Linked DNA regions of Homo sapiens: all the other regions are linked to region 5. Evidence: fine-mapped expression QTL. A gene starts in region 5. Each other region holds a variant in brackets. All regions are shown on one strand. Distances are between the middles of the regions.

Region 1 (5,111 bases), 180 kb before region 5:
GTCTGTTAACAACACTTCAACACACGGTACCCCTGACTTTGAATTCTTCTTTATTTTTCATTAAAGACTCTGCAGAAATGGATAATGAGTGGAAGAGTTGAGATCTGACCCAATCCAATGTATCTAAGTTTTTATTTGCTTTGCTCCAATAGGAAAGCCTGTTATTTTTAATGTTTCTATTTGCTTTCCTGTGTCATCTTATATATTATCACATGTTAACGATAGGTTCAAATTATAGAACCTTCCCCATATTTAACAGGAATCTCCACTTTTTTTCTTTCCTATTTCTCCCCAGCTAGACTTCAGGGGTTGATTCCAAAGTGGGAAGGTCCTCGTGTCCCCCGACGACCAGCACTGCTTCACTCCAGGTGACTAAGAAAGAAGGGGGCCGGGCGCGGTGGCTCATGCCTGTAATCCCAGCACTTTGGGAGGCCGAGGCAGGGAGATCACGAGGTCAGGAGTTCAGACCACCCTGACCAACATGGTGAAACCCCATCTCTACTAAAAATACAGTAATTAGCTAGGCGCGGTGGTGCGTGCCTGTAGTCCCAGCTACTCGGGAGGCTGAGGCAGGAGAATCACTTGAACCCAGGAGGTGGAGGTTGCGGTGAGCAGAGATCACACCACTATACTCCAGCCTGGGTGACAGAGCGAGACTCTGTCTCAAAAAAAAAAAAAAAAAAAAAAGAAAAGAAAAGAAAAAAGGAAATTATAGACTCTACTGGGGATAACATTAAAGAACATGCATTCAATGGGAGAACTGATGGCAATGAAATGAGCCAATGCCACCTGCATGCCGCAGAGTAGGGGAGCCCCCAGAACCCAACCATGCATCTGTCTCCGTCCACACACATGGGACCCTGTGGACCGGGGTGCACAGCACAGGCAACATACGTGAGGAAGGGTAGAGAGATGCTTCCCATTGAGCCAAGGACCATGCCTTCCTCCTGCGGGACAGTTTGTGATCACCATCACCCACAGGACCGTCTATACACTGACCTGAGCGGTAGTAGTGTGGTTCACCTTGAGATTGTATTTTCTACATTTTTACAAAGCAAGTAAAAATAAAAGAATAAACATAAACAGAACATCTGGCACCAGAGAAAGAAATTCAGACAATTCACAAAGTTGCGAAGGAGGGGAGACAGACACCTACACGAATTTGTTACAATTGTTATAAACTTTCTTAATATCTCACTGTCTGGACACTTGAGTCATTAATTCACTTTTTATCACAGAAAAGTTTAATATTGGACTTTAATTTCTTCAAGTCTTTTTGATCAAGAAACCTCAATATTACATCACAACCTCAGATTTTTATCAATCCAACTTCCTGTAAGCCAACAAAGAATATTAGAGAATTCAATGGAATTAATAGTAAAAATCGTCCAAATGAGATTTTTAACTTTCCCCCAAATTTTAAGTTAAGCTGTTTCTTTAGTTTCACATTATTGGGCTGCCAAAGAGCCAACTCGTGAAGGCATCAACACATCTGGAGTATCCTGCAAGTTAACGGGAATACCATGTCCACACTTCACTTCCACCTTCAGGGCTCCCATGGTGACTCCCAGTCATTGCTAGCCCAGGATCAGAAGTTTATATTTCCTCAAAAAACCAACACTGATCATTCAAAAAATAAAGAGAAAAGATGCAAATTTTGACTGAGTTTGGTAAGCCATGCCATGACTCCAAAACCGTTTTTGCATTTTGTGACCAATTTACAGAAACAGGAAGGAAGCACAGTCACATTCCTCTAGATGACTCAAGGAATAGAGTTTAACAAAGCTCCCACAGTAGGGTGTGATTTTGTCAGAATACAAAAAAGCTGATCAATGGCTGCTTTTTCATTTGGACCTAAATAGGACTGGGGCCAGCGATTAGTTCTGGATTCCAGGGGCAGAGGAAAGCATGCTGACCGGTGCACACATTATCGTTGTCCAGGGGCAGAGGGGAGCATACTGACCGGTGCACACATTATCTCTATTCAGGGTTAGAGGAGAGCATGCTGACCAGTCCACACTTTATCACTGTCCAGGGGCAGAGGAGAGCATGCTGACCAGTGCACACACATTATCACTGTCCAGGGGCAGAGGAGAGCGTGCTGACTGGTGCACACATTATCACTGTCCAGGGGCAGAGGGGAGCATGCTGACTGGTGCGCACGCATT[A/G]TTGCAAGGAGAGCATGCTGACCGGTGCACACATTATCGCTGTCCAGGGTTAGAGAGGAGCATACTGACCAGTGCGCACACATTATCGCTGTCCAGGGGCAGAGGACAGCATGCTGACCGGTGCACACATTATCGCTGCCCAGGGTTAGAGCAGAGCATGCTGACCAGTGTGCACACATTTTCGCTGCAGCTCATTGTAGTTATGGGGAGTTTTTCACTTTGCTTTTCATTTTGCAGCTGAATGCATGTGAGACAAATGTCCCTACCTGAAGGCTCCTTGAGCTCCTGGCCCAGACCCTTCGATGACCACCGCCGTGAAGGTCATTGGTCTTCCAGGAAGGGAGCCAGGCCCCCTGGGCCTCTTTCTCCTGGGGGGTGTGGCTCAGCAGCCCCCACTGGAGCTCATTACTGAGCAGCTTCTCCCTAAGCCTGAGGCACCCCTCCCTTCCTTTTCTGTCTCCTTCTGTACCCAGTGATTGGCCACCTCCACTTTTTCTTGGGAGTTGGTGGGCAAGAAGGGAAGAGGAGTTAGATCATGGCCAATTCAACTCCTTTTGAGACATTTCAATAAATTTGAATAATTTATTTCAATAAGGAACTGTGCCCTCCTCCTTTGCAGCTCAGAAATGCTGAGATTTGAGAGTCGGTCTAGCACCCAGCACCGAGGCCACTCTCTGTTGGGTCTAAGAATCCCTTCAGGGCCTGGGAGACACCCAACTGTGTCCTTTTCCAGAGTTCTTTGCACTGTTTTCCACTCCTCTTCCCCCAACTGTTCTGGAAACAAGTGCCAAAGTACATGCCACATGGAAGTAGCTGATAACCAGCTCCGTGTTTCCTGCTAAACTGGGACAATTGAAAGTTAAATTTTCACATAAACCATTGCCCCAGCTGGGGCAGACCCCAGGCCTGCCTGAGATTTATTTCTGCAAAGTCCTGGAAAACCCAGTAAACAGTATGAGAGTCCCCACAGTTGTGCGGTTGTGAGGAAAGCAAAAATTATGAAGCTGTCCACCAATAAAGGGACAGCCAGACACCCCTCTCTGCTTCAATGTCATGTCTGACTCTGCCCAGTGTGGCTACGTCTTTGGAAGTCAGTGCATCACGGAGCTGTCGCTGCAACAGGCTGTGGGACAGGTGACTCCAAAACTCCAACCTATGCCAGGAAACTCGATTCTGTGCTCACAACCTGCAGGTCCACAGTGGTTCATGTGATTAAAACTGACCCGGGATAGGCCGGGCACGGTGGCTCACAGCTGTAATCCCAGCACTCTGGGAGGCCGATGTGGGCAGATCACCTGAGGTCAGGAGTTCAAGACCAGCCTGGCCAACATGGTGAAACCCCGTGCCTACTAAAAATACAAAATCAGCTGGGAATGGGCGCGGTGGCACGCACCTGTAATCCCAGCTACTGGGGAGGCTGAGGCAGGTGAATCACTGAACCCGGGAGGTGGAGGTTGCATGAGCGGAGATCAAGCCATTGCACTCCAGCCTGAGCAAAAAGAGCAAAACTCCGTCAAAAAAAAAAAAAAAAAAAAAACCCGAAACAAAATCAAAACCTGGCCTGGGGCAGGTGGCTGTTTTGTAAGCGAGGTTTGCCTGGTCTTGGGTGCAAGCTGCAGGCTGGGTTTAAGTCTTCTCCTAGTGCCTCTCATCCTCCTTAGACGCATTCTTCTCAGGAGCCCAAGGTCCGAGCCAAGCACACGATTCATTCAGAGCTTCTGATCACATCATGGCCACCCACACTCCATTGGCCAAGGCCAGTCACATGACCAAACCCAAAGTCTGTAGGGCAGGGAAGGGGGAGCGGAGGGCAATATCTGCTGATACTCAGCTCAACACAGAAGGGCTGGTACAGCAGCTCCTCACTGGCTGGAAGGTTGAACATTGGTACACAGTGAGAACTAACTACAAAATAAAATACAAATCTCGCAGGAGGCATGATCCCGCATGAGACGGCTATTCTACCCTCACCCACAGAAACAAGGCTGGGAAGGTCATCTTCAGTTGGCAGTGGACGAGGAACGCAACACAGACCATGGCAAACCACAAATTCCCAGAAGATGATCTGAGTATCAGAGAGAGGCCCTTGGGAAGGCTGACACAGACATTCACAGAAGCTACCTAGGGTGAAAGGCAGGATCACGTCACGTAAAATTCTACTGGGAAAATGACACCAACCCCCCAACGCCCATTTGATTCCTTTCTCATTTCTTTTAAGTACTAGTCAGAAGTGAAAACTTAATTTTCCTGTATATGTGAGAAAATACATTTATGTGCCTATCTTCTGATTTTCACCTTTCAAGATAATGTCCCAAACCAAACTGGTTATCACTATTTTTTTGATTTTCTGGTACTCCCTTTAAGCAAATTCACCGTAAGTGAATAACAAGGACCTTCCGAATACAGGTACAGAGTGCAGGCTCTGCAACCAGGAGACTTTGGTTCCAATCCCCATGCGTCTTTGATCACTGTGTGATGTCTGGTGTGTTATTGAACCTCTCTGGCTGTGTTCTCACCCACTCCTCATTGAAAGGATTAGATGGGGCGATATATTTAAAACAGAATTCCTAGCATGTGGTAGCACTCAGTAAATGCTAGGTGTTACTGTTAAGATTACTAGACCATTCTTGGCACTTAAACTTTCATATATTCTCTTTATTATTTTAGGACATCTAATTGTAATAAAGTTTATATAACTGAACTAAGCAAATGTCCCGAACCAAAGCTGCCTACACGTTTCGGACGATACCTTTACCGGGCTTTCTGAAACTTTTTTATGGAAAAAGATTTTTCTGGAATTTTTCATGGAACTTTTGCTTTCCATAAGCAAAAGAGGATAAAAACACAGCAGAAATATGTTATTAATGCAAAAACTTAGCATGCACTGACAGGATATAATTAACTATCTTCCGAAGTTCCATGCAGCTGGGTGTAAAACACACG
Region 2 (5,000 bases), 20 kb after region 5:
GAAAATATTGATAGACTACCAAGTTATTATTCAAAAGGTAGGGGGCCCTCCAGTTTATGCTGCCACTGTTGTGACTATGACCCTTTACCTAACACTGCATATTATGAATTAAACTTTTCAGTCTGACAGGTAAAAAGTAATGTGTCATTGGTTTTAAAATTTGTAATTCCTTATTCATTGTTGAGAATGAGCATCCTTTTCTTTTCTTTTTTTTTTTTTTTTTTTTTGGTTTTTGAGACAGGGTCTCACTCTGTCACTCAGGCTGGAGTGCAGTGGCGCGATCATAGCTCACTGTAGCCTCGACCTCCCAGGCTCAAATGATTCTCACGTCTCAGCCTCCTGAGTAGCTGGGGCTACAGGCATGTGCCACCATGCCCAGCTAATTTTTAAGAAATTTGTATAAAGATGTGGTCTCACTATGTTGCCCACACTGGTCTTGAACTCTTGGGCTCAAATGGTCTGCCTGCCTTGGCCTCCCAAAATGCTGAGATTACAGACACGAGCCACTGCACTTAGCAGGGCATCTTTCATGAATGTTTCTTGCCATCTTTATTTTCTTTCTATGTGAAGTGCCTGTTTTTCTGTCAAGAAATTTGTTTTATTCTCGTCAATTTTTATGGAAAATCCTTTTTAAATAAACATTTTGATGTTTTACTGTGTTTATAAATAGTTTTTCCTACTCAGTCATTTTGGTCTTCTGATTTTATGGTATTTTTGCTATTAAATGAATATTTCTTTTCTTTTCTTTTTCTTTTCTTTTCTTGCTTTTTTTAGACAGAGTTTTACTCTTGTTTCCCAGGTTGGAGTGCAATGGCGCGATCTTGGCTCACTGGCACCTCCACCTCCCAGGTTCAAGCGATTCTCCTGCCTCAGTCTCCCTAGTAGCTGGGATTACAGGCAGATGGTATTTTTAGTAGAGACAGGGTTTCGCCATGTTGGTCAGACTGCTTTCCAACTCCTGACCTCAGGTGATCCGTCTGCCTCGGCTTCCCAAAGTGCTGGGATTACAGGCGTGAGCCACCACGCCTGGCCTAAATGAATATTTCTTAATACTTTGTTTTCTTATTTTTAGGGGACTTGAAATTTAACTAAAAAGACTGAGTGAGCACTTATTTTTTAAAACCCAAAATATCTTAGTGTATTAGTCTGTTTTTACACTGGTATAAAGAACTACCCAAGACTGGGTAATTTATAAAGGAAAGAAGTTTAGTTGAATCAGTTCCACATGGCTGGGGAGACCTCAGGAAACTTAACAATCATGACGGAAGACAAAGGAGAAGCAAGCACCTTCTTCACAAGGTGGCAGGAGAGAAGTGAGTGCAAGCAGGGGAAATGCCAGATGCTTATAAAACCATCAGATCTCCACTCAGTCACAAGAACAGCATGGGGGAAACTGCCTCCATGATCCAATCACTTCCCTCCCTTGACATAAGGGGATTATGATTCGAGATGAGATTTGGGTGGGGGCACACAGCCAAACCATATCACTTGAGTTACAGCGGATAGCTTGGACCCCATTCCTTTTACATCTAGTAGGTAGCAGTTTATCAGAGCTTGGGCGGTCTTTTTTTTCCTTAAATGAGGTTCAAATTTATTAAACTCTCTGTGACTGGACTGCGTGGTATCGAAAGAAGCCTTGGATGTAGGTTTGTTAATGAGATCTTTAAATGTTGACTAGTTTAGATGTTTTAAGTTCCTAATTTTTCATATGACTACAAAAATACTAAAATAATTTTACTTCAGTGACTTTGAGAAGATTCTCAAAATGAACTATAGGGGTGTTTTTTTCTGTTTTGGGGATAAATGAACATAAACAAAACTCCCCGAAAACCAGTGCGTGAACTTTTAAAAGTTCAAAAATAAGCCATGAGCTTTGTAGAAATTAGCCTTACTGATAGTTGTAAATAGTTAAGGTTGTCTGATTACTTAAAACTTCTCATTAACTTTTTATTTGTTGTGATGTATATTTATGAAATGGCTTTTTTTTTCAGTTTATTTCCACAAACATCACAGTAAAGAAAATAATTGAAGATTGAAAAAAGTATAATATTTAAAAAAAAAACCAAGTTGTTTTTTTTTTTTTTTTCAATGTATCTTAGAGAATCTTCTATGAGATTTGGGGGAGGAGTATAGGATGTCTAGGAAATGGCATTTTCAGGGGAGTTAATCTATTAGAAAAGTCATAATTAAAACTCTGAGTTAGTAGAAATCAAATATTGTTTAATATAATTCGTCAACTGAATCTGCGTTAAGACATTCAATAATTGTATTATTGTTTTGCCAGTTTAGTTATTTGATTGATGCAAACCTGTCATCTGTACAATAAAAAAATAGTGAGGTATGTCTATACTCTGTCAGTTTGTTTAATTTTAAAG[C/A]TGAAAGTTAAATTTTAGAACGCTTTTCATTTGCTTTTTTACCGTAAGTGGGAGCAGCTTTTAACTTCACGAAAACCACTCTCCTCAAAGTCATTAAAGACTTTCATGCTGACACATCCAGTCGTTTATCTTCTGATGCAGCAGCAGTTGATCACATCTTCCATCAAATTCTTCCTTCACTTGGTCTTCAGGACTGGCCTGTTGCCCAGACCTCAGGGTCTGATCCCAATACACACTCTTTTCTCCACTTATTCCCTAGGTGAAATATTTCATTTTTGTGGTTTTAAGTGCTAATATATTCCAAATTTACATCTCTAAGTTTGGCCCTTGTTCTGAACTTCAGCCCCATATAGCCAGTCCCTCATATCTCTATTTAGGTGCACTCTAGGCATCTCAAAGTGAGCCTGTCCAAAACTAAACTCTGATTTCCCACCACTGCACTCTCATCGGCACCGCACTCTCATCTGCTTCTTCTTCAGCCCTCTCCTAAGTCTTAGTGAACAGCAGCTCACTTTACCAATTGCTAATGTCCACAGCCTGGCATTCTTCTGGATTCCTTTCTTCCTCTCAGACCATGATCATATCTAATCTTAGCAGCAGATTCTGTCAGCTCTACTTTCAAAATATTTTTATAATTTAACCACTTTTCACCATCTTTGCTTCTTACTACTGAATTAATCCAGGCTAACTTCATATCTCCCACCTGGGTTGTTCCAGTAACCTCTTACTTAGTCTTAATTTATTTCCCTTGTCTGCCTTTGCCCCCTTACAGTCTGTTTCCTACACAGACATACACTTCTAAACCTTAAGTTAAATAATGTAATGTTTCTATTCAGACTCCCCAATTTTTTTTTAATCACTCAGTGTACCTTGACCTACAAACCTTATTCCTAATACCGTTTTTTCACTTTCTCATTCTGCTATAGCCACAAGGGGCCTGCTTGCTATTTGTCAGTTATGCCAACCAGGATTCTGCCTGGGATCTTAGTACTTGTTCCCTGGGCTTAGAATGTTCTTTCCCTACAATTAGGCTTTGCTCAAGTATCCTAGAAGTCTTTGTTGATTTACCCTATGTGAAACTGTGGGGGTAGCACTTTGGTGAAACAGGAGCTCCTCCCTAAATGGCAAGCTTTTTGAATACCTTGGCTTGAGTTTATTCGTAACTATCATGGTCACATTTCTTTGACAACATGTTCCATGCCTAGCAGTGATTCAGGCATTACAACCAGTCTCTTATTTCATTTGATTCCCACATCAGCAAAGGATATATTACTATTATTTACATTTCTTTTAGTTAAATAGTGTCCAGAAAGTTTAAGGAATTAAGAGTTACAGACATAGCGAAAGGGTTTTCTTTCTCCCTTTCTGCCTCCCCCAAGAAAACTACTGACGTGAAACTTCATATGAGTAGATATAGTTTATTTAACAGCTTTGCATTATTCTGTTGTCCGTATTCTATCTCTGTCCCTATCCAGAGATTAATAAATTGTATATACTTTTCCACAGTTACAAATGTGGATTTAATGAACAGTCTTGTCCATGTTTTCTTCTGTACTGATGTAAAATTTTTAGGATGAATACCTAGAAGTGGAATATTTAGATTCAGATTTTTTAGGTCCTGCAAAATTGATCTTGGAAATGGTTCTACCAATTTATATTCCAAACTTCAGTCTTCACCCTCCTCAATATATTCAGATTTGTTGATATGCTCTAAAGTATTTGAAATAATAATTTCAATTTGTTACCCTGATTTCCGTCGGTGAGCATGTTTTCATATGTTCATCTAGCCTTTACTTCCCTTTAATTGGATTTCTCTTTTTTACAGACTCAGCTGTGTATTAAACAGAATGTTCATTTTGTATTATTGTATAGTACAATGATTACTGATTGTTTAGTCTGCCATACTGCTGGAACTGGGTGTTTTCCACCCTTATTTTTATACAGCAGGATGAGACGCAGTGCCGCATAGTGGTTGAAAGTGACTTGTTTCAAAATTGCCAGAGTATGAATTCTGGCCCACTGGTATTAGCTCTGTGAACATGGTCCACTTACTTGATCTTCCTTAGGCCCCGTTTCTTCATCTGTAAGACAGGAACAGTAATAATACCTACCTTATGGGGTTGTTGTGAAAATTGGAGTAGATAACGCATAAAAAGTACTTATTAGCACAATGTTTAGCATAAGGCAGGCATTTATACTGTTGTTATTTGTAGTGCATTGTCATCATTAGTATTTGTGGGTTTTTTCTTTCCCTTGATTTTATATGTTTATCTTTGTATCATGTAATGTAACTTGTGGGGGGGGAGAGATTTCCAGCAACATGTTTAGGTTTAGTATTGTATGTTCTAGGTTGACTCTGCATTCTTGTTTGTTGCCGTTTCTTATTTTGTGTTCAATTATAGCTAGAAATGATAGTACCTTCTTCAAAAGTATCCTTATATGAGATTTTTTTGAACAGTGTAATGTTATAAAAACCCAATCAGTGATTTTGAGGTTTTTGTTTCATGGAACTTTACACATCTTACCATATTCTTATCATATTCTGTATCCCTGTCTTTGAGTTCATGCCTATTGTGTATTCCATTACTTACCTAAAGAATTTGTTTCAGAATGTACTTTTTAGAA
Region 3 (5,000 bases), 120 kb after region 5:
AAATCTCGTACATAAGCACACACATTAGCTTCGGCCTGCACAGGGTCAGGATTATCAGTGTCACTGTCTTCCACCTCCACATCTGGTCCCACGGGAAGGTCTTCAGGGGCAGTGACATGCCATGGAGCCATCACCTCCTGTGGTGACAATGCCTTTTTCTGGAAGGCTTCCTGACAGACCTGCCTGGGGCTACTTGACCATTAACTCTTTTTATAAGTAAAGGGAGTACACTCTAAAATAACAATAAAAAATATAGTATAGTAAAATATATAAACAAGCAACCCAGTCGCATATTACATTATCAAGTATTATATACCGTGTATAATTGTATGAACTATACTTGTATACAGCTAGCAGTGCAGTCTGGCACGACCACAAACACGAGGAATCATTGTACTACAGCTTTACACTGGCTAAGATCATTTAGAAGATAGGGATTTTTCAGCTCCGTTTTAATCTTAGGAGACCACTGTCACGGATGTGGTTCATCATTGACCAAAATGGGCTTATTTGGTTCATGACTGTAATTCACTTAAACATCTTAATTATTTAAATAATTTATTTTCTGGAACTGTGGTTTTACAGCTACATCAAAAAGAATCTCAGGATAAAATCAATACAAATTTAGGGCTTTTAAAATAATTAGTTCAGACACAATAGGAGAAAACCATTGTGATTCATAGCACAACTTGTTAAATGTATACATAGACTTCTAAATATGGCCTTTATGGCTTTCTCCTCCGTAAGGCAGGATTCTAGAAACCTCACAACCCAGAACCTCAAGTTGGTACCTAATAGTAACAAATCACAGCCACAGCCAAGGCATCAGAGAACGTGACTTGCTGCTTCTTGAAGCAAACACACACCACCCAAGGGGCAGCTCAACAAAACCTCGTGTGGTATTGTCTGCCTTGCTCAGCATGTTGTTTACTTTTTATGTCACGTAGAACTTAACATCTTGGTTGTCTAATTTCTTAGTTAGTGGTCATTTAAAAGAAGCAAACTAGAATGTGAGTTAGAAATCACAGAGGGAAGCTGTGAATAGTAGATGATAAACCAGGGTGAGCAAGCAAAAAGGAGGAGAACTGACAGAAGCGGCCGCCAGGAGCGGAAGGCTCACGTCACATGACGGCTGCTCAGAACGATGACGCTGGGCGATTAAAAGTTCAGATATTTTTCTACAAAGTCAGGGAAACATATATATCTTTATTGATTTTTTTTTTAAAGATACTTTAAAAATGGTTAGATTTGTTGCTTAAAATAGTGAAGTTTCAGTTAATGAGAAAATAAGCTTTGAAAGTGTTTATCTTCCCATCATTACTAATTAAGTAAAAATATTTTCTTTATTCTCAGTATATTTACTTAAAAGCTGTTTTATGATTCTGTAGGAAGAATTGACCTTTATCACCTTATTTCTTATGCTAAGAACAATTCTTATGGAATTTTAATGATAATCAGGGTGTTGAAAATAAAATCTTAAGAGATACTGAATATGCTTTGATTCCAGTTTCAGATCGTCGTGGCTCAGGTAAACCCCGACCAAAGAGTGAAGGCTTTGAGCTCTATAATAATTCAACTCAAAATGGGTCTCCTGAGAGTCCTCAGCTGCCTTGGGCAGAATATAGTGAACCAAAGAAATTGCCTGGTGATGACAGACTGATGAAAAATAGAGCTGATCACCGTTCCAGCCCCAACGTAGCAAGTAAGAGTGACACTTTTTTGCTTCCTAAGTACACTTGTGATCACAGTCTGAAGTGAGAGGAGGCACTTTGTGGTTTGTTAATTATTAAAATTATTCTCTGCAAACATTGGCTAACTAGGATATGGTTTTCATAAGGGATATCATAAGTAACATTTCTCTAACAAAAACTAAGATGGAAAAACTTTAGATTCAGTTGATCCCATAAGCAAATACATTAATAACATCTCTATTTGGGGTTGGTAAATTACCAAGAGAAACTAAAATATGTTTTACATTTTTTTTTTTTTTTTTGAGACGGAGTCTCACTCTCTCGCCCAGGCTGGAGTGCAGTGCAGTGGCGCGATCTCGGCTAACTGCAAGCTCCACCTCCTGGGTTCATGCCATTCTCCTGCCTTAGCTTCCCGAGTGGCTGGGACTATGGGCGCCCACCACCACGCCCGGCTAATTTTTTGTATTTTTAGTAGAGACGGGGTTTCACCATGTTAGCCAGGATGGTCTCGATCTCCTGACCTCGTGATCTGCCCGCCTTGGCCTCCCAAAGTGCTGGGATTACAGGCTTGAGCCACCATGCCCAGCCAATATTTTTTACATTTTTAAAGGGTTGTTAACAAAGAGAAGAAGAAATAATAGAAGGATATGCAGCAGGAGACAAAGGCTCACAAAGCCTAAAGTATTTACTTTCTGGCCTATTACCAAAAATGTTTACCAGTCCCTGGCCTGATACACAGAGCTACAAAGGTTTTTTTGTAGCTCTGGGCTCTGATTATTTAAAAGATGGATGTGGATATGACAAGACCTGATTTCTTACCTGCCTTGATT[T/A]TTTTTTTTCATCTCTGTGCTGGATACTCACTAGCAGTATGAAGATGAATGAGGTCTTTAAGGAAATTTCATGTTATATATAGGTTGTTTATTTAATATTACACTTTTTTTTTTCCCCCCTGACTTGAGCAGATCAGCCTCCTAGTCCTGGAGGGAAAAGTGCATATGCCTCTGGAACAACAGCGAAGATAACATCTGTCTCTACTGGAAACCTCTGCACTGAGGTCTGATTGATTGATAAGCAAAAGGCTTCTACTGCATTTCCATCCTTAGGGTTCCCTTTGGACATCTCAGTTATCTAGTACAATTTTTACTCTGAATTAGCATTGATTATAATTTCTAAATTTGCAGTGTTTTATCTTTTGATTTTTAATATACTAGTCAGGTAAATCAGTTTTAAATTAATAAGTCTGGGCAAAATGAAATGTTATTTATTCTCAGTATGGATCAAACACTTTTTAATGCAGTATTTAACATATACTATTTTTTAAATTTTAAAACAGATCATTGAAAATCAAGTTAGTCTGTATGGTTGTAAAAAGCTCACTTTTTTTGTTCTTCACATTTTACAGGAGCAGACGCCTCCGCCTAGACCTGAAGCCTACCCCATCCCCACTCAGACGTACACCAGAGAGTATTTTACCTTCCCAGCTTCCAAATCCCAGGATCGGATGGCTCCTCCTCAGAACCAGTGGCCAAATTATGAGGAAAAGCCACATATGCACACAGATAGTAATCATTCCAGTATTGCAATTCAGGTTAGAAATCAAAGATTCCACACACTTTTCTCACCTCTCAAGGAGGACACACTGAGTTCTGAGACACAATTAATATTTTCTATAGAACAGCATTGTTGGCCTTTTGTTTTTCCTTTAATGGTTTTGTGGTTAAGTTTGAGGAAAAAAGGAGACAGGATAGAATACTTAATAAGAAAAAGGATTATCTGTTCTCTGATGTTTGATTAACAAAATGTTAGGAATATAAGGCCTTACAATTTTTAAGACAAAGTTCACTGATTCTAGAAGTGAGAAATTAGAACTCAAGTGGTGTATTTTGCACTGTATCAGGAGCTATCCCTGCCTGTGGGAGCTCATGGTGTGGCAGGGAAATGAGACAGACACAACAGACACAGCATGGTCAGTGCTGTGGGAGAAGAGGCCCCAGCAGGGGATGGAGCTTCTCAGTCTTGGACGAGAACCTGGGCACAGCTGTATGCACGGAAGGGCCTTCCAGGAGGAGGGAAAGGCACAGAGATGTGTAGTAGTTCAGCAGGAACCCTGGGTAGAGGGGAAAGGGGTGGCAAGATCTAAGGCAGTGAAGATAGGCGGGGCCAGACAGAAGGGCTTGACATGACAGCTAAGGAATTTGATTTTTGTCCACATTAGTAGACGGGTGATGCCAATCTGAGTAGTTAAGCTGGGGAACGTTATCCAATGTGGTTTTCTTTTTAGAGAGATAACTGTTTGTATGGTGAAGGATTGGGAGAAGAAATTAAAGGTATGCTTAAAAATAGTTACAGTCTAGGATCTGTGACAAATACATGCCCTGGATCGCAGACGCTCTAGGAATTCTGAAGATTAGCATTCTTAGAGTGGTTGGAAAAGACAGAATTCAGAGTTGAGATGGAATTTGAGCTGAGCCTTGAAGAATGAGAACAGTAGGCAGCGGAGAGAGGATTGCACTGAGGAGATGGACGCTGTGATACAGATGAGGAGGAGCCTGTTTTCTGACGGCAGAAAATGCTCCTCAGGCCACAGATGTTGGCTATCAGGAGATTTCATCTTGGCCTTTTGTCTGGTGTGCTGGTCCATCCTGCTGTTTTCCTAGGTGGGCCTGATCACCTGCAACGGCCCAGTCTTGGGAGTTTTGGATGCACTCTGTCACCAAAAGCTGGAGTTATCTGGGAGAAGGTGTCTTTCTCCAAATTTCTCTTTAAAAATTGAGTAATTTTGTGCCCTAGTCCTTCTAGTATCTTTTGTTAGAACGTAGGAGAATCTGCTTCCCATATGTCAAGACAACCCAATTTGTAGTGCATACATTGAATCCCATTTTTATGCACAGTATTTCCTGTTGTGTGGGGCTGGCATTACGTCTTCACATTTATAGTATACAGCTGCTACTTGTTTCTACCTCACATGGATAAACAATACCTAGAGGAGAGAGTTGAGGAACTGAGAGGCAGGCCAGAGTGTGGAATGAAAAGTTATGATGGGGTTTAAGCGAGGAGGTGGAGAGTGCGAGCCAGCAGCCGGGGCCAGTGCAAAGTCTTAAGGGAGCAGAGAAGTGACTCAGGTCAGCCCTTCCGGCAGCAGGGAGCGGCGGTAGGCACAGTCTCTGTTTTTATGTGGTCCATAGATTTTATACCCCAGTAATGAGACTCTGTGTACTAAGTAAAGCTCTAGCAAAATGTTGGGAGTAAATGTTCCATTTTTCTGTGAGACTACTGCTTTTTGAAGTGATACTTCATCTTTGTTGTTGG
Region 4 (5,111 bases), 100 kb before region 5:
TTGTTGAGATGGAGTTTTGCTGTGATGAAGTTTTGCTGTTGTTGCCCAGGCTGGAGTGCAATGGCATGATCTCGGCTTACTGAAACCTCCACCTCCCAAGTTCAAGCCATTCTCCTGCCTCAGCCTCCCAAGTAGTTGAAATTACAGGCGCCCGCCATACCCACCTAATTTTTTTGTATTTTTAGTAGAGACGGGGTTTCACCATGTTGGCCAGGCTGGTCTCAAACTCCTGACCTCAGGTGATCTGCCCACCTCCCAAAATGCTGGGATTACAGGCATGAGCCACTGCGCCCAGCCAAGAAAACTTCTTAATGTGTGCTTATAAGGCCAGCACAGCCATTACACTAAACATCTGGTGAGAATATTACAAAAAGAAAAATTACAGGTCAATGTCTCTTTAAAACATAGACACCAAAAAAGAACCTGAATGTAACAACATAGAAAAAGAAAGTACATGGCAACCAAATTAGATGTACACCAGGAAGGCAAGGCTGGTTTAACATTTGAAAATCAATGAATATAATTCAACCTATTAGTAGAATAAAGGAAAAAGCCACAGCATCATCTCAAATGTGCAATAAAAGGAATGCAATCAAATTTAGCAAACATTTATAATTTAAAAATTCTTGGCAAATTAGAAATAAAAGGGAATGTCCATAATCTGATAAAAGGTATCTACAAAGGAAAAGAGCAGTATTCACCCAATATCGCAGATAATACGGAATACTGAAAACTTTCCCTCTGAGCCTGGCAGTGAGGGAGATGCCTCTTTTGACACTTCTATTCAACACTGTCCTGGAGGTCCTTGCCAGTTCTATTAAAAAAAAACAAAAAACAAAAAGGCAACCGTAAGGATTAGAAAGTAAGAAAAAAAAACCCTCTAGTTTGGGCAGATGACATAATTGCATATTCAGGAAATATAAAAGGAATAAATCAAACAAAATGTGCAAGAACTCTACATAGAGAACTTCCGCATGTTACTGAGATAAAGAGATCCAAGTAAATTCTGTGGTATTGGTGGACTGGAGCAATGGAACAGGAGAGTCCTGAACAAGACTCTCCTTGCGATGCTTGGTTTATGATAAAAGTGATTCTGCACAGCCGTGAAGAAAGAAGTATTTCTGTTATCTGTTGTGCATAACAAAGCATCCTAAAACTTAGTGGCTTAAAACAATAAGGTTTTACCTTTATTTTCTGAGAGTTGGCTCCACTGCACTAGGCTGCAATCCTAGGGACTAACCATGCTGGAAAGTTCAAGATGGCGCACTCACATACAGGAAGCTGGATACTGGCTGGGAGCTCAGTGCCTCAGTTATCCTCATGAGACTTGAGTTTCTCACAGTTTGCTTTTAAGAGGGAGGATTCCAAGCCTCGGGTAACAGAAACTGCAGATATCCCAAACCCCAGCCGTGAAATCACCTAGCATGTTATACACCATCCTGCTAGTCAAAGGAAGTCACAGATTTGTGTTCTTTTCTGCTTGTATATGACACTCCAATAAAAGTTATTTTTAAAATTTTAAACATCAAAAATTTTAGGAGATCAAATTTATCAATCTTTTATTTCTTTGTCTTTTGGGATCTTAAGAAGACCCATTCCCACCTCTGAAAACTGAAACATATTTTCATGTGTAAGTTTTAGAATTTTTGATACAACATTCAGTTATCTGAAAATTATTTTTGTCAATACCGTGAATTGGGATCTCTTCTTCCCAAACACATAAATGATTGTCCTGACAGCATTTATTAAATAACCCATAATTCCCCTTACTAATTTGAATGAGTCCGGACTCTTGACTTTAAACAATGAAAATGATTTTTTGAACCTGTATCACACAGATTCCAATCACTTCTCACTGTGTCTTGATATCTGATAGGGCCAATTTTTCACCTCAGTTCTTTTTCTTGACTATTCTGGCAACTTAAGTGTGCCTTGTCTTTGGTTTCACCAACCTTCAGCAACAGCACAATAGAAAAATATTTCATCATATGGTTTTACCTTTAATGTATATATACTTTGCGTAGAGAGTGTGACTCCCGCAAAGTGTTTTCAGGTTTCTGATCTTGATTTTCCGCAAACAGGGCATCATCACAGTCCTCAGGTTCACAGGTGGGAAAACAGAGAGAGAGGCTGCATGAATTGCCTGTGGTCCTACAAAGGAGACTCAGGACTTTGGGCCATTTGGTGGGTTCATGCTCATGGCAGAGCTGCCCTTCCCCACCCTCTTTCACGTGCTGGTCAATGTAGCCCAGCTCTGCTTCAGATTGAAATGCTCACCAGCATCAAATTTTCTCTATCTTGGTAAATTGTACTTTGCTCTGTGTTCAGCTGGTCTCCAGGTAGGAGTGCCCTGATAGAGAATTAGAGCCCTAAGACCACATTCTCATTCCATGCCACTGCTTGGGAACTGTACAAGTCTGCAAGATAACATGGAAATGCAGCCCCTGGGTCGCAATGCCAAGAGCCCTCTGAGATGCTGTTTGACGTTCCTCTTCCAATCCGTTTGAAAGGACCTGTTCCGTACTGACACTGTAGGTTCCTGAGCCAGCGCGGAAGGTTGCTCAGCCATTTAAAATCTGTC[T/G]GTCTCGATAGGAAATACAAAGAGAAAATGGAGGGTGATTGGCAGAGCAAATTGGATCTTCACTTGCCAATTCTCTTCTCATTTGCAAATATGCTAGTGAAAAGCCCAAAGCAGCCCTAAGCCAGTTTCATGAATCCAGCACTCCTGCCTGACAATTAGAGGCCCTCATCTGAAAATACTAACAAAGGAGTTCAGGCTTCTCAGCTGTTCACTCAGCTAGAATTTACCTTGAGTTCAAGAGAAGAAAATAAGTCCTGCTTTGGAAATGACAATTTGAGAGAACGACACCTTTCCAATTGTAACAAGACAGTGTTATTGACCCGGTTTTTGATATTATTATTATCAAACATAATTTAAGGCTGACCAAGAGTTCAGCTGAGGACACGTCCTTGCTAGGGTGGCTAAGTTTTCGTGTTTAGATAATCTCTTAAAGTAATTTCTAGAACATATTCTTTAAGTAGGATTGACTATAAATCAACACTGAAAATGCTGAAATAGAGTTGCGATGTGATACTAAGACCTAGACATTCTGAAATCTCAGCATCTTTCCCAGCTGTGGCACCAGCAAGCCAGACCCCAGGGGCCACCGGAATACTGGGGAAGGGACAGTGGCAGGAGGCAGAGGAGGCTGTGGGAGGGAGATAAGGAGACAGAAATAGGTCCTCTTTCTTCCCTTTTTTGTCTCTTTCTTGCTGTCCTTTTTAAAGAAGAAAAGAAATGGAAAACACTCACAAAGTGTTTCTCATAAATCAGGTAGTAAAGTTCATTCACTTATCCATAGCTCTGAGGTTCTGGAGACATGGCAGGAGCTAACAGAGCTGATGTCTCTCAGGACAGAATTAAACCAGATGCAGAAGGCCAACACAGGAGCGTTGTCCCCAATCCCAAGCTGTCCCTGCCATGAGGGCGCCCCAACTTAGTCATCCTTCCTCTGACACCCACCCCCACTGCATTGGTACCTGAAGATGAAGCTCTTCAAAGAAGGTCTGGAAAAACAGGCCTCTTGGTGTTTTCCACCCCACACTCCAGGGTGGCTCTGGGGCCTTTCTCTGGTTTTGTTCTTCATCTGAAACTGAAGGGCCATAACCATGGACTCTGGACTGCGCAATGCATGGAAACCTCACGGTGATGGTGCCTTAACCAGCTTTGAACATGAACTCGATGTAATACCTTTTATTCAGCTATTAAAAATGATAACTGAGATAGATGAGAACTTCCCTCAACTTGATAAAGAATATCTACACAAACCCTACAGCTAACATCACACTTACTGGTGAGAAACTCAAAACTTTTCCCACTAAGACCAGGAACGAGGCACGGTGTCGCCTCTCCAGACTCCTTTGCAACATCATACTAAAAGTCCCAGCTAATGCAATAAACAAATAAATAAAATATAAGGTATATAGATGGGAAGAAAGAAATAAAGTTGTCTTTGTTTACAGATGATGTAATTGTCTATGTAGAAAATCTGAGAGAAATGACCACAGAAAACACACCTGAAACTAACAAGCAATTACATTAATAGCAAAGTGGCAGACTGCAAGATAATATCCAAAAGTCAATCATTTTCCTACATAACAGCAATGAACAAGGGGGATCTGAAATTAAAAACATAATGCCATTGATATTAGAGCACTTGAAAAAAAAGAAATACCTTAAGAATAAATCTAACAAAATATGCAAAAGATCTATATGAGGAAAACCGCAAAACTCTGATGAAAGGAATCAAAGAAAAACTAAATAAGAAGGAAAATATTTCATGTCCCTGGATAGAAAGACTCAATATGGTCAAGCTATCAAGATTCTTCCCAACTTGATCTGTAGATTTAATGCAACCCCAATCAAAATCCCAGCAAGTTATTTTGGGGATATTGACGAACTGATTCTAAAGGTTATAAAAAGCGGCAAAAGACCCAGACTAGCCAACACAATATTGAAGGAGAAGAACAAACTTGGAGGACAGACACTACCTGACTTCAAGACTTACTCTAAAGCTACATCTTACTCTAAGAACACTCTGGTATTGGCTATATATATATATATATATATATATATATATATATATATATATGAGAGAGACAAATAGATCAATGGGACAGAATAGAGTCTGAAAATATATCCACACAAATACAGCCAACTGGTCTTTGACAAAAGAACAAAGGCAATAAAATGAAGCAAAGCTAATCTTTTCAGTAAACAATGCTGGAACAACTGAACATCCTTCAACGAATGAATCTAAACACAGATCTCACACCATTCACAAACATTAACTCAAAGTGGATCATAGACATAACTGTAAAATGCAAAAAACTACACAACTCCTAGAAGGTAACATAGAAGAAAACCTAGATGACCTTGGGTTTGGCAATGACTTTTAGATACATCAAATCCATGATTTATGAAAGAAATAATTGATAAACTGGACGTGATTCAAAAACTTCTGGTCTGCAAAAGACACTGTGAAGAAAATGAAAAGGTAAGCCAGAGGCTGAAAAAAATAATAATTGCAGAGACATATTTAATAAAGGAC
Region 5 (5,089 bases):
TTTAAGAATCATAGGTATTCTATGAATTTTTGGCTGCTCTTAAACATTTGTCAATAAACTAATGTTGGTTGGGACCTACAATAAAGTGTAGTTTAGATATTGATATACCACTCATACATAATACAAATGGGGACTTTTAATGACAGTCAGAAAAACGAGAATGATTCACATTAATTTCGAGCCTTCTATGTGTCCTGCATCACCCAGTAGGTATTTCACATATGCTATATGTTTTTTATTACAAAAATAACACTGCAGAGAGCCCATAACTGTTTTCCAGGAATCCTGAATTTTCTCTTTAGTGATGCTACACATACTTACTTTGGACATCAGCAATCTAACTGCCGGCTTTGCAAACTCATTCTTCAAGAGGCAAGTCATTCTTGGTAACAGCGTCCTCAGGAATGAAGCTCCTGCAGTTGAGGTTCAGTGAACGCTGCGTCAGGGATCTGCGCAGCACGTGTGGAACCCAATGAGAGTCCTTGCTGTGCAGGCACCGGGATGCTCACATAGTAAAAACTCGAGTCCATCGGGAAGCCCAGGAACTGAAAGGCATAAAGAAACCGAGTGCTAGAACACGAAGATGACATTTAGACACAGATGCTTTTCTGCAAGTCACCACACTTTAATTTTAAGAAAGGAGACTAGCGATCTATTGAATAATTCATTCCCTCATGGCACTGGTTCAACACCCCAGGCTCCTCTGCTGAGAAGCCTCCTTATGTAGCTGTACTGGACAAGTGCGGTAGAAAAGACAGAACCCAGTGGGGATGACAGAATTCTTTAATTGTCTGCAAAAGAGGAAATCCAGTTGGTGGAGAGAAAAATTATTTCCACATTGGAAAAAAAAGTAATGACAAAAATAAAAAGGCTTTGTCAAATATAGTTCACTCTTCTCATTACTTGCCTTAGTGTTTCAAAGATAAACGCTTTTTGTTACAACACATCACAGATAACGCAACTTCGCCTGACTGAACCCGGCGTGGGGAGACTGCAGAGATGGCGCTCTGCAGCCAAAACAAAGGGTGGGGGAGGGGAGGGGCAATTACAAAAAAGACACCTTATGAAAAAAAATCCCTACAATTCACAAAGCTTGCTACTGAAATTAATTTCAGGTTTCCACGTCCACGGGGACACGTACAGGATTTAAAATGACGATCACGTGGCATCTCTCAGGGCCAAATGGGGCGCATCAAAGCTTCCCCTCGACGTTTATTAACTCTGCAGTCCGTTCTCTACGTCTGCGAAGAATTGGCAGATAACGATGTGTCTGAGAGAAGAGGCGTTTTCTAAGGAGACACACAAAGGGAGTGGGACCCTCCAACCTCACTCTGTGAGAGGAACACCGCACAGCAGTGTGGGGGCTCGAACACCCCAAGAGCGGCAGAGCGCGGTTCAGAAAACATGACCCTTGAAATGCACACAAAGCCTAACAACGTGTCCTCCGCGGAAGAAAACAGCTTGAAAAGGTCGGCTTTGAAGTGACCCAGCGGAAAGGAATCACCCTGGAAGAAACACGCAGCAGCCCCGGGGCAATGCGCGGGCAGGAGGAGCAGCGAGCGCGGGGAGCGCAGGGCCCTTCGGAGAGGGCGCTCCACCGGCCCTGCGCTCCGTACCTGTGCCGCCACGCCCACCGGTCCCCTGCTGAGCCTAGCACCGCCCATTTAGACCCAGCACCACCCGTCCGGACCGAACCTAGCACCGCCCGTCCGGACCCAGCAGCGCCCATTTGGATACTGCACCGCCCGTCCAGACCCAGAACCGCCCGTCCGGACCCAGTACCACCCATCGGACCCAGCGCCGCCCATTTAGACCCAGCACCGCCAGTCCGAACCGAACCTAGCACCGCCCATGGGACCCATCGCCCGTTCGGACCCAGCACCGCCCGTCCAGATCCAGCACTGCACCCCCATTTGGATCCAGCACCGCCCGTCCAGACCCGGACCCGCCAGTCCGGACCGAACCCAGCACCGCCCATCGGATCCGGCGCCGCCCATTTAGACCTAGCACCACCCATCCGAACCGAACCTAGCACCGCCCATCGGACCCACCGCCCGTCTGGACCCAGCACCGCCCGTCTGGAACCAGCACCGCCCGTCCACAGATCCATCACCACCCATTTGGACCCAGCACCGCCCGTCCCCGCCCGTCCGGACCGAACGCAGCACCGCCCATCGGACCCAGCAGCGCCCATTTAGACCTAGCACCGCCCGTCCGAACCGAACATAGCACCGCCCATCGGACCCATCACCGCCCGTCCAGATCCAGCACCGCCCATTTGGATCCAGCACCGCCCGTCCGGACTCTGCACCGCGCGTCCGGACCCAACACAGCACCACCCATCGGACCCAGCACTGCCCATTTAGATCCAGCAGCGCGCGTCCGAACCGAACCTAGCACCGCTGGTCGGGAAGGAACCCGGTACCGCCGGTTGGGACCCACCACCGCCAGTCCAGACGGAACCCTAGCACCGCGCGGGGCCCGCCCTCCGACACCTCCCTCCCTGGCGGCCGCGGCAGCAGCACCTAGTGGAGCGGCCCGGAGGTGCGGCGGCGCCGCGCGGGGCGGCGGCGCGCACGGCGGGCGGCGGCGCGCACGGCGGCGGGCGGGGCGCGGGCGGGTGCGGGCGGCGGGCGGCGGGCGCCGGGCGCACACCGGCCGGCGGGGCTGAGGCGGCGCGGCGCGGCGCGGACTGAGCCCCAGGCGGAGGCCAAGTCGGAGGACGCGGCGCGGCCGCGGAGGCGGAGGCAGCCGCGGAGGCGGAGGCGGCCGGCGGGGGGTGGCGAGGGGCGCCGGGCCCCCGCGGACCTGTCGTCCTCGGCCCGTCCTCCGGCCCCGGCCCCGCGCGGCTGAGGAGGCGCGGCCAGGACCATGTCGGCGGGCGGCCGTGACGAGGAGCGGCGGAAGCTGGCCGACATCATCCACCACTGGAACGCCAACCGGCTGGACCTGTTCGAGATCAGCCAGCCGACCGAGGTGAGCACCGCCGGGCGCGGGGCCTGCGCGACCCCCGCCCGCTGCGCCGCGCCCCGCCCCTCCCCCCCGCCGCCGCCCGCCAGCCGCGGACCCGCCCTCCTTTCCCCCTCCCCCCTCCGCCCCTTCTCTCCCCTCCCCCTCCCCCAGGCCCACCGCGGGCCCCGGCGTCCCCCGCAGCCCCCGTCCCCCTGCCGCGGTGTATCCCGGGGTCGCGCGGGCCGAGCGGGGGCTGGCGGGGCGCGGCAGTCACCTGTTCCCCTCTCCGGCCGCTCACCTGGTGGCTCACCTGGGCCGCCGCCCCCACCCCCGCGAGCGCGGCGCGGCCCCGGCCTCATCCCCGGCGGCGCGGGGGGCGCGGCGGCGCGCGGGGCCGGCGCCCTCCACCTGCAGCCCGGTTGTGGCTCGCGGCGCCCCTTCGCCGTGGCCGGGATGGAGCCTGTGACGCGCGCTGTGCTTCGGGTTCATAAACTTGCAGGCTGCCAGCTGGGAGGGGAAAGTCAGTATCACAAAGTTCGGGAGGTGCGGGCTGCCTGATGGCACAGGCCCGGAGTCGGACGCCTCCGAGGAAAGGCGCGCCTTCTCCACCTTCGGGGCCGCGAGGAAGGGCCCTCTGCGGCGGCCTCTGCCCGGAGGGAGGCGCCGGCCCCAGGCTGGCTCCCTGAGAGGAGGAGGAAATCACGCTCGCTCCTGGCCTGGTAACAATGGGGGTTGTTTATAGCAAAGCTGCTGAAAGCGTTCCGAGCAGCTTTTAAAAAAATGTTTGAGTCCAAGTCCACTAGGAAGGGCTCCGTGGAGAGGGGAGGGAGGTGAAGGGTCGGGGAGCAACCCTGTAAATCGCTCCGCAAGGGTCGGTTCCGCGCTCTGTTCATTCGGTGGCTGCACAGACTTTACCAGCATAAAAAAATTTCACTCAATATTTGTGCCCGTTTAGGAAATCATTTTAATAGCGTCTATTTTTGATTTGTTGTAATAGGTAATTTATAGTTAATACTTGCTATAAAATACTAGCTCCTAGGCAACAAAACATGTTTGGCAGATTTGAACATTCTTACGAAATGTAATCCTTTTATCATTAAATTCCACTTTATGTTTTTGAGAGAATTTGACTATTGCTTCTCTGATTTCTTGAGTTTTTGCCAGTCATGGGAAGGACTCTATTTCTTCTGTTTTCATCTGTACCTGTGACTGCACTTGACGTGGGTAGCTAGCCATTTGTCTTAATACTGAGTTGAATACTGACACACGCCATTAGGCTCAGGTTGTCAATTTGAGCATAGATGTTATGTTAAGTTACTCCTGATTCATTCATCTTCTGTAATGATTTTATGAGTTAGGTTCTAGTAAGGGAGTTAGTACTATGTACTTAAGTGTTCGTTCATAGACTAGTGTATCTTTAGAAAGGTGACATGATAATTTAGTTTCAGGATTATGTTTTCTTTTAGAATAATGAATTCATTTTTCTTTTTATCACAAGGTAAAAAAAGTTGACCATAAAACATTTTCTTGGTGTGTAGCTTTTTTTTTTTGTTTGAATGGATTTTTTTTTTTTTTGAGAGATTTCTCAAGTCTGGTGGAAAGGAATCTTTTTTCGGTTTAATAAAGAGAATTCAGCTTTTTGGGATTTTGAATTGAGTTAGCATTAAAAAAATCTCAAATCAGAAACATTATAGTTCATTGATTTAATTAAATTCTATTTTAAGCACTCAATTGAAACTTTTTATTTCTTAGTGATATGACTAGTTTTTAAAATTGGCCTGTCATTTGGAAAGCTGTTTTTTCAGTTATACTGTAGGTGAAAGTTTGCTTTGTACATACACTGAAGCAAAACAAGAATTGAAGGACTTGGAAAAAAAGATGATATATTTCATTTCCTAATTTTTCTCCCTACTTATATCTGAACATTTCCATTTTTAGAAATTATTCTTCAGAATTGTATTAGAAGCCTTTCATAATGAAATGAATGGTTTTTAAGAATGTCCATATATTGGTTTTTTAGCTTTTTTACTATATAGTGGCTGGCTCACATTTCTATTTTGTTTTCTCGAGAACTTTCCTGTACTATTAAATTTATTCTGGTCCTAGTTAAGCTTTGCATTTAACATATTGTATCTTT
Region 6 (5,111 bases), 35 kb before region 5:
GTCTGGAAGCCTCAAAATGCAATCTGCCTGCTGCCCCCTGGATCTCGGACTTCCGGCCTCCAGAACTGTGAGGAATCAATGTATGTGGTTTAAGCTGAAACTACCCAGTCCACAGACAGCAACCCAGGCAGAATAATACAATAGCAATGTCAACACCACACAAAACTCTCCTGTCTCCTTGTAGATGAAGCAGCTCCAACCCACAGGCTCCAGTCTCACTCAAGGCTCACCAGAGATGCAAGCCTCACCCTCCCCATCCACCCCTGCATGCCACCATCCACCCCCATGCCCCCATCCACCCCTGCACACTATCCACTATCTACCTCTGCACTAAACCAGCCACCCTTACACCACCCCCCACCCCTACCCCCACCCCCATCATCCATCCCCACAATACACCATCCATTCCTGCCATTCACCCTTGCATGCCACCATCACCACCGCACTCAGCCATCCACCCCTGCACTCAACCATCCACCCTTACCCCTCACCGTCCACCCCATACCCCGTCATCCACCCCTGCACTCAACCATCCACCCCTGCTCCCCACCATCCACCCCACCCCTCACCATCCACCCCATCCTCAGCCACCCAATACTACCCCTCACCATCCTCCCCAACCCCACCATCCAATCCTACCCCTCATCATCCATCTCCCCACCATCCACCCATACCCCTCACCATCCACCCATACCCCTCACCATCCACCCATACCCCTCACCATCCACCCCATCTCAATCACCCAATACTACCCCTCACCATCCTCCCCTACCCCCCACCATCCTCCCCTACCCCCCATAATCCACACCTACCCCTCACCATCTGCCCCTACCCCCCACCACCCACCCTACTCTCTCTTACTCAGGACATCCACCCCGCTTCAGGCATCTGCCCAAAGCCCATGCATCCACCAACCTGCCTGAGAGAGCAAAGGACCCTCCACCTAAATTCTTATCTGCTCTTCAAGGGTTTCCATCCATTCCACTCACCCTCCGAGTTATCGCCATTGCAGTGGGTGAGACATTTCACTTGAGGGAATGAAGGGTTTTTTTGGTCCCCTCTCCCTTAAAAAAATTTCAGGGAGTTGAACGATGAAAAGCTGCCCTTCCCTTAAGACACACACACATTGGCCCAGCATAGTGTGCTAGGCAGTACCCTAGCATGCAGCAGGCAAATACAGGGCACCTGGGTCCACCTGAACTTCAATCAACCACAGATAATTTCTTAACTTATACTAGATTGAGATAACACTATATACAACCCTACTCTACTACCATGTATTAGATTATGCCAAAAAATAATCCATGGTCATTGTAAATGCACACTTACCTGGCACACTGTATTTTACTTGCTCTATCTGGCAACTCCTTCCATAAGGGAAGTCTGAAGTGAGCAGTCGAGCTGGGAGAGCAGAGTCATGCGGGGCAGGGGAATGATGGGGTCCCACAGCCGTGCCCATCAGCCCGTTGACCACATCTGCATGGCACAGGGAGAAGGAGGGGAGGACAGGTGGGTCCCGGCACGGCCACCCCTTCATCAGCCCATCAACCACAGCCTTCACGGCACTCATCCCATGAGCTGTCACCCAGCACCCACCAGGAACTGAACAAGAAGGACATGGCTGTGTCCTCAGGGAACTTAGGGAGGACAGTTATCTCCCCCACAACACAGTTCAATCAAATGTACCACGGGGCAGGTGTTAGTCTAATATTAACCAGTGCTGGGAACACTGCGTGATCTTAGTTCCTTCTTGAAAAGTTTGTTTTCAAAAAGCTGAAGGAAAATACATCACAGTGATACAGAAGTTGAACCAGCTCTGGCCCTGAGCACCAGGGCACCAAGCAGGTGATGGGGCGGCCCCAGTACAGGCAACAGCACGTGGGGTCTGGGGGCAGCCGGGGATCCAAGCTTAGCCTGGGCAGCATGTGAGGTGAGTGGCCAGCAGCACACCCCAGCGTCACCTGGAGCCTTGGTAAGTGAAGCTGCCAGAAAAAGCATGGATTAAGCAAGAGTTTATTTTGCCTGGGGTCATCATTTTAGCAACATAAACTTACGTCATTAATTTGCATTGGCATCTGACCATTTTGTGAAATGTGGAGTTTCTGAGGGCGGCAAGGCACCTAGAGTCCAGCAGCTTCCTGTGCTGCCCACTCTGGCAGAGACCCCAGGCAGAGAAGAAGGCGGCAGAGAGGTAGACTAGCTGATGAAATTTCTGATTTTGTAACTCAAGCCTTCTTTCTCATTAATTTTTTTCACTTCTCCCTTTTTATGGAAATAGAACATACATACAGAAAGTACACTTAAAGTATCAGCTTGATGAATTTTCACAGCCTGCACTCAGCCTCATCAGCAGAGCCAGATGAACAACCTGAACACACAGCAGCCCTGAACCCTCTGCGGGCCACTCCCAGGCACCAAGCTCTGGCACCCTCACTTCTGAAGGCAGAGAGTGATGTGCCTGTGTTTTTGCACTTTATACGAATATATTTTGTCTTACA[T/C]CTTAATTGCATATGTTATTTATCCCCAAGTTCCCTGAGGACAGAACCATGTCCTTCTTGTTCCTTCCTGATCAGTTCCTGGCGGGTGCGGGGTGGCGGCTCTTGGGATGAGTGCACGCTTGGTAGTGAAGGGGTGGCTGCGCCTGGACCAATCCGCTCTCTCTCTCAACCTCCCTGTGCTTGACAGGCTGCGGGCATGGCTGTGGGACACCATCAATGATTACTCTCCCTTTAACCCTTTCAGAATCAGCAACACAAGCAGTGCTTTAAACCCAAAAGGTCCCTTAGCACCAGGTCATAGAGATTTTGCAAAAGCCGTGGGATACGGAGCTGGTACAAGTGGAGTCTCTCTTATTCGAAATGCCTGGTACCAGAAGTGTTTTGAGTGTTTTATTGTTTCGTATTTTGGAATATTTGCGTATACATAATGAGACATCTTGGAGATGCTACCCAAGTTGAAACACAAAATAAATTCATGCTTTATATACACATAGCCTGAGGTAATTTTATACAATATTTTTAATAGTTTGTAAATGTAATGAAATTTTGGTTACATTGTGACTGCAACCTGTCACATGAGGTGATATGGTTTGGCTGTGTCCCCACCCAAATCTCAACTTGAATTGTATCTCCCAGAATTCCCACATGTTGTGGGAGGGACCAAGGGGGAGGTGATTGAATCACGGGGGCCGGTCTTTCCTGTGCTGTTCTCCTAATAGTGAATAAGTCTCATGAGATTTGATGGCTTTATCAGGGGTTTCTGCTTTTGCTTCTTCCTCATTTTCCTCTTGCTGCCACCATGTAAGAAGTGCCTTTTGCCTCCCGCCATGATTCTGAGGCCTCCCCGGCCATGTGGAACTGTAAGTCCAACTAAACCTCTGTTTCTTCCCAGTTTTGGGTATGTTTTTATCAGCAGCATGGAAACAGATTAATACATGAGGTCAGGTGTGGAATGTTTCACTTGTGGCATGAGGTTAGTGCTCTAAACATTGTAGATGTCAGGGCATTTGGGATTCCAGGTTTTTGAATTAGGGAGGGTCAGCCCGTATGGCAAAAAGCCAGGTGCAGCAGCCTCCAGTCTGCAGGCCTGAATATTGGGCTGCTAATGCAGGAGAAGGCAAGATTGATCTGATGTCAAATATTGAAGCTGAAATGTGTCAGTGCCCATGTGGATCAATGTTTCATGTGAGGACAATGCTGACATTTTTCTAACCAGCTGGATCATTTTAAACCATTGTGCTGAAAAAAAGACAATCAAAGAATTATGATTTTTTTTAAAAATCTCCCTAGCCTGTAAAGTTTAACACTGAAACACAGTCCTTAAGAATATCTTCTTCTAAGTGTGGTGTACAAAGTCCATTTCTGCAGTGGTTTGAGGCTGATGTGCTTCTACAAGATGGTGTTGTGGTCTGGCCTAGCTATGCAGATCCTTTTGTTTCTGTTTCTGGAAATATGTCAGGCATGTTGCCCTGTTGGTGTAATTTCCTTTAATTCATCCTCGGTCACCGTTTTCCAGGGCCTCTGGGCATGGGCGTTGATAACCTACGCCTGGTAACACCAACGTCTGTGAGCCCAGCCTGACAATGATTCTACCACCTGTCGATGGAGCAGGTTTCAGTGTAAACAAGCGTGTGAATAACTGCTGAAATATTGACGCTTTATTGCCTCCACGGAGGCCACAGTTTCCTTTATTTTATGATGGTACTTGAAATAATGTTTGATAAGAACCTGCCCAAAAGTCCTCCTCACATGGAGCATCTTAGAGTTTCAAAAGAAAATTGTTGAGGTTTCTGTTCAAATTCCAGAAGATCCAACTAGAGCCTGGGAGTCATCATCATGCTTCTGGTGGATTTTCTCCTGCTCACATCACAGAGTGTGATTCTGAGACCCCTCTAGCTGTCCCAGTCCCCTATGCCCAAATTAATTCATTCACTTCAGTGCTTCGAAAACTGTCTTTAATTCTCACAAGCCCCAAGTTGATGCATTCTTCTGAAATCCTTGCTTGATGACACTAAGTATCCATTCCCTGCCATTCTCTGTCACCACACGCTTTATATTTTTTCATTGCACATAGTAAAATATGTAATTTTATATTTGCTTTTCATTTTACTTTCCATCTCCTTCACCAATATGGAAGCTCCAGGAAGGGAGAGGCGATGGACTTTCTTCCCCTGTTGTTTTGCTACCATCACGCACACAACGCCTGAATTATAGTCGCTGCTCAATAAACATCTGTTAATGAATAGATGGTAGTGGCACAGGGGCCCGGCGCAGGTGAAAACCTCCCTGTATTCCTCTTTAGCTCAGCACTCAGGGCACATTCCTTCCTGTGCACAGTGGAAGGTAACTCTGCTGAGCCCTCTGTCACCGTAGCCTCTGCAGAGGTCCGGGCACACGGCCACCTCAGAGCCCTCCTGCAAGCGTAGCAGCCTCGCACGCCACCTGGAGAATGTGCACATGTGTGGGACTGGCCCTGGTTCCCACCACACTGGGAGGTGGCCTTTGCAGAGAGTTGTCATATAACAGCCCTGCCAAGGGGAGGGTGGGACGTCTTGGTTTCACATGGATAAGGTTCTTTAAGGCAGGCTCCCTACAACACTTAGCAAATAAATA

Direction of the effects. Alleles are on the strand shown, and positions count from the first base shown. SD is a standard deviation of normalised expression in the study named. Not every link is listed here.
With allele C in place of A in region 2, the expression in Th1/17 cells of the gene that starts at base 2,650 in region 5 is higher (large effect, 1.1 SD a copy in Schmiedel 2018).
As copies of A replace T in region 3, the expression in NK cells of the gene that starts at base 2,650 in region 5 goes up (large effect, 0.80 SD a copy in Gilchrist 2021).

What was found. PIP is the estimated chance that this variant, and not a neighbour inherited with it, causes the effect. A credible set is the group of variants that fine-mapping cannot tell apart.
Region 1: its variant is the best candidate, but not a certain one, in a credible set for the expression of AFDN in whole blood (TOPMed, PIP 0.65).
Region 2: its variant is the best candidate, but not a certain one, in a credible set for the expression of AFDN in Th1/17 cells (Schmiedel 2018, PIP 0.61).
Region 3: its variant is the best candidate, but not a certain one, in a credible set for the expression of AFDN in NK cells (Gilchrist 2021, PIP 0.62).
Region 4: its variant is the best candidate, but not a certain one, in a credible set for the expression of AFDN in whole blood (INTERVAL, PIP 0.75).
Region 6: its variant is the best candidate, but not a certain one, in a credible set for the expression of AFDN in blood mononuclear cells (TOPMed, PIP 0.68).

What each region holds. Positions count from the first base shown.
Region 1 is chr6:167,645,753-167,650,863 of GRCh38, forward strand. No RefSeq gene overlaps it. Among named protein-coding and RNA genes, the nearest start is that of LINC02538, 31 kb to the right of the region's middle. RefSeq lists a silencer at 1,943-2,143. The variant A/G (reference allele first, on the strand shown) is at 2,169.
Region 2 is chr6:167,844,644-167,849,643 of GRCh38, forward strand. The region is part of intron 1 of AFDN (afadin, adherens junction formation factor); the gene reads left to right. Among named protein-coding and RNA genes, the nearest start is that of AFDN, 20 kb to the left of the region's middle. The variant C/A (reference allele first, on the strand shown) is at 2,376.
Region 3 is chr6:167,945,200-167,950,199 of GRCh38, forward strand. AFDN (afadin, adherens junction formation factor) reads left to right here. Exons shown (of 34, transcript NM_001386888.1): 27 at 1,508-1,702; 28 at 2,654-2,745; 29 at 3,094-3,279. Among named protein-coding and RNA genes, the nearest start is that of HGC6.3, 32 kb to the right of the region's middle. The variant T/A (reference allele first, on the strand shown) is at 2,522.
Region 4 is chr6:167,723,746-167,728,856 of GRCh38, forward strand. No RefSeq gene overlaps it. Among named protein-coding and RNA genes, the nearest start is that of LINC02487, 30 kb to the left of the region's middle. The variant T/G (reference allele first, on the strand shown) is at 2,582.
Region 5 is chr6:167,824,262-167,829,350 of GRCh38, forward strand. It overlaps AFDN (afadin, adherens junction formation factor), which reads left to right and starts at 2,650. Exons shown (of 34, transcript NM_001386888.1): 1 at 2,650-2,976. The coding sequence starts at 2,872. It overlaps AFDN-DT (AFDN divergent transcript), which reads right to left and starts at 2,535. Exons shown (of 2, transcript NR_027906.1): 1 at 1,142-2,535; 2 at 1-545. RefSeq lists silencers at 1,619-1,688, 2,603-2,802 and enhancers at 2,273-2,342, 2,373-2,452.
Region 6 is chr6:167,789,618-167,794,728 of GRCh38, forward strand. LINC01558 (long intergenic non-protein coding RNA 1558) reads right to left here. Exons shown (of 4, transcript NR_026773.1): 2 at 1,330-1,476. Among named protein-coding and RNA genes, the nearest start is that of LINC01558, 4.7 kb to the right of the region's middle. The variant T/C (reference allele first, on the strand shown) is at 2,499.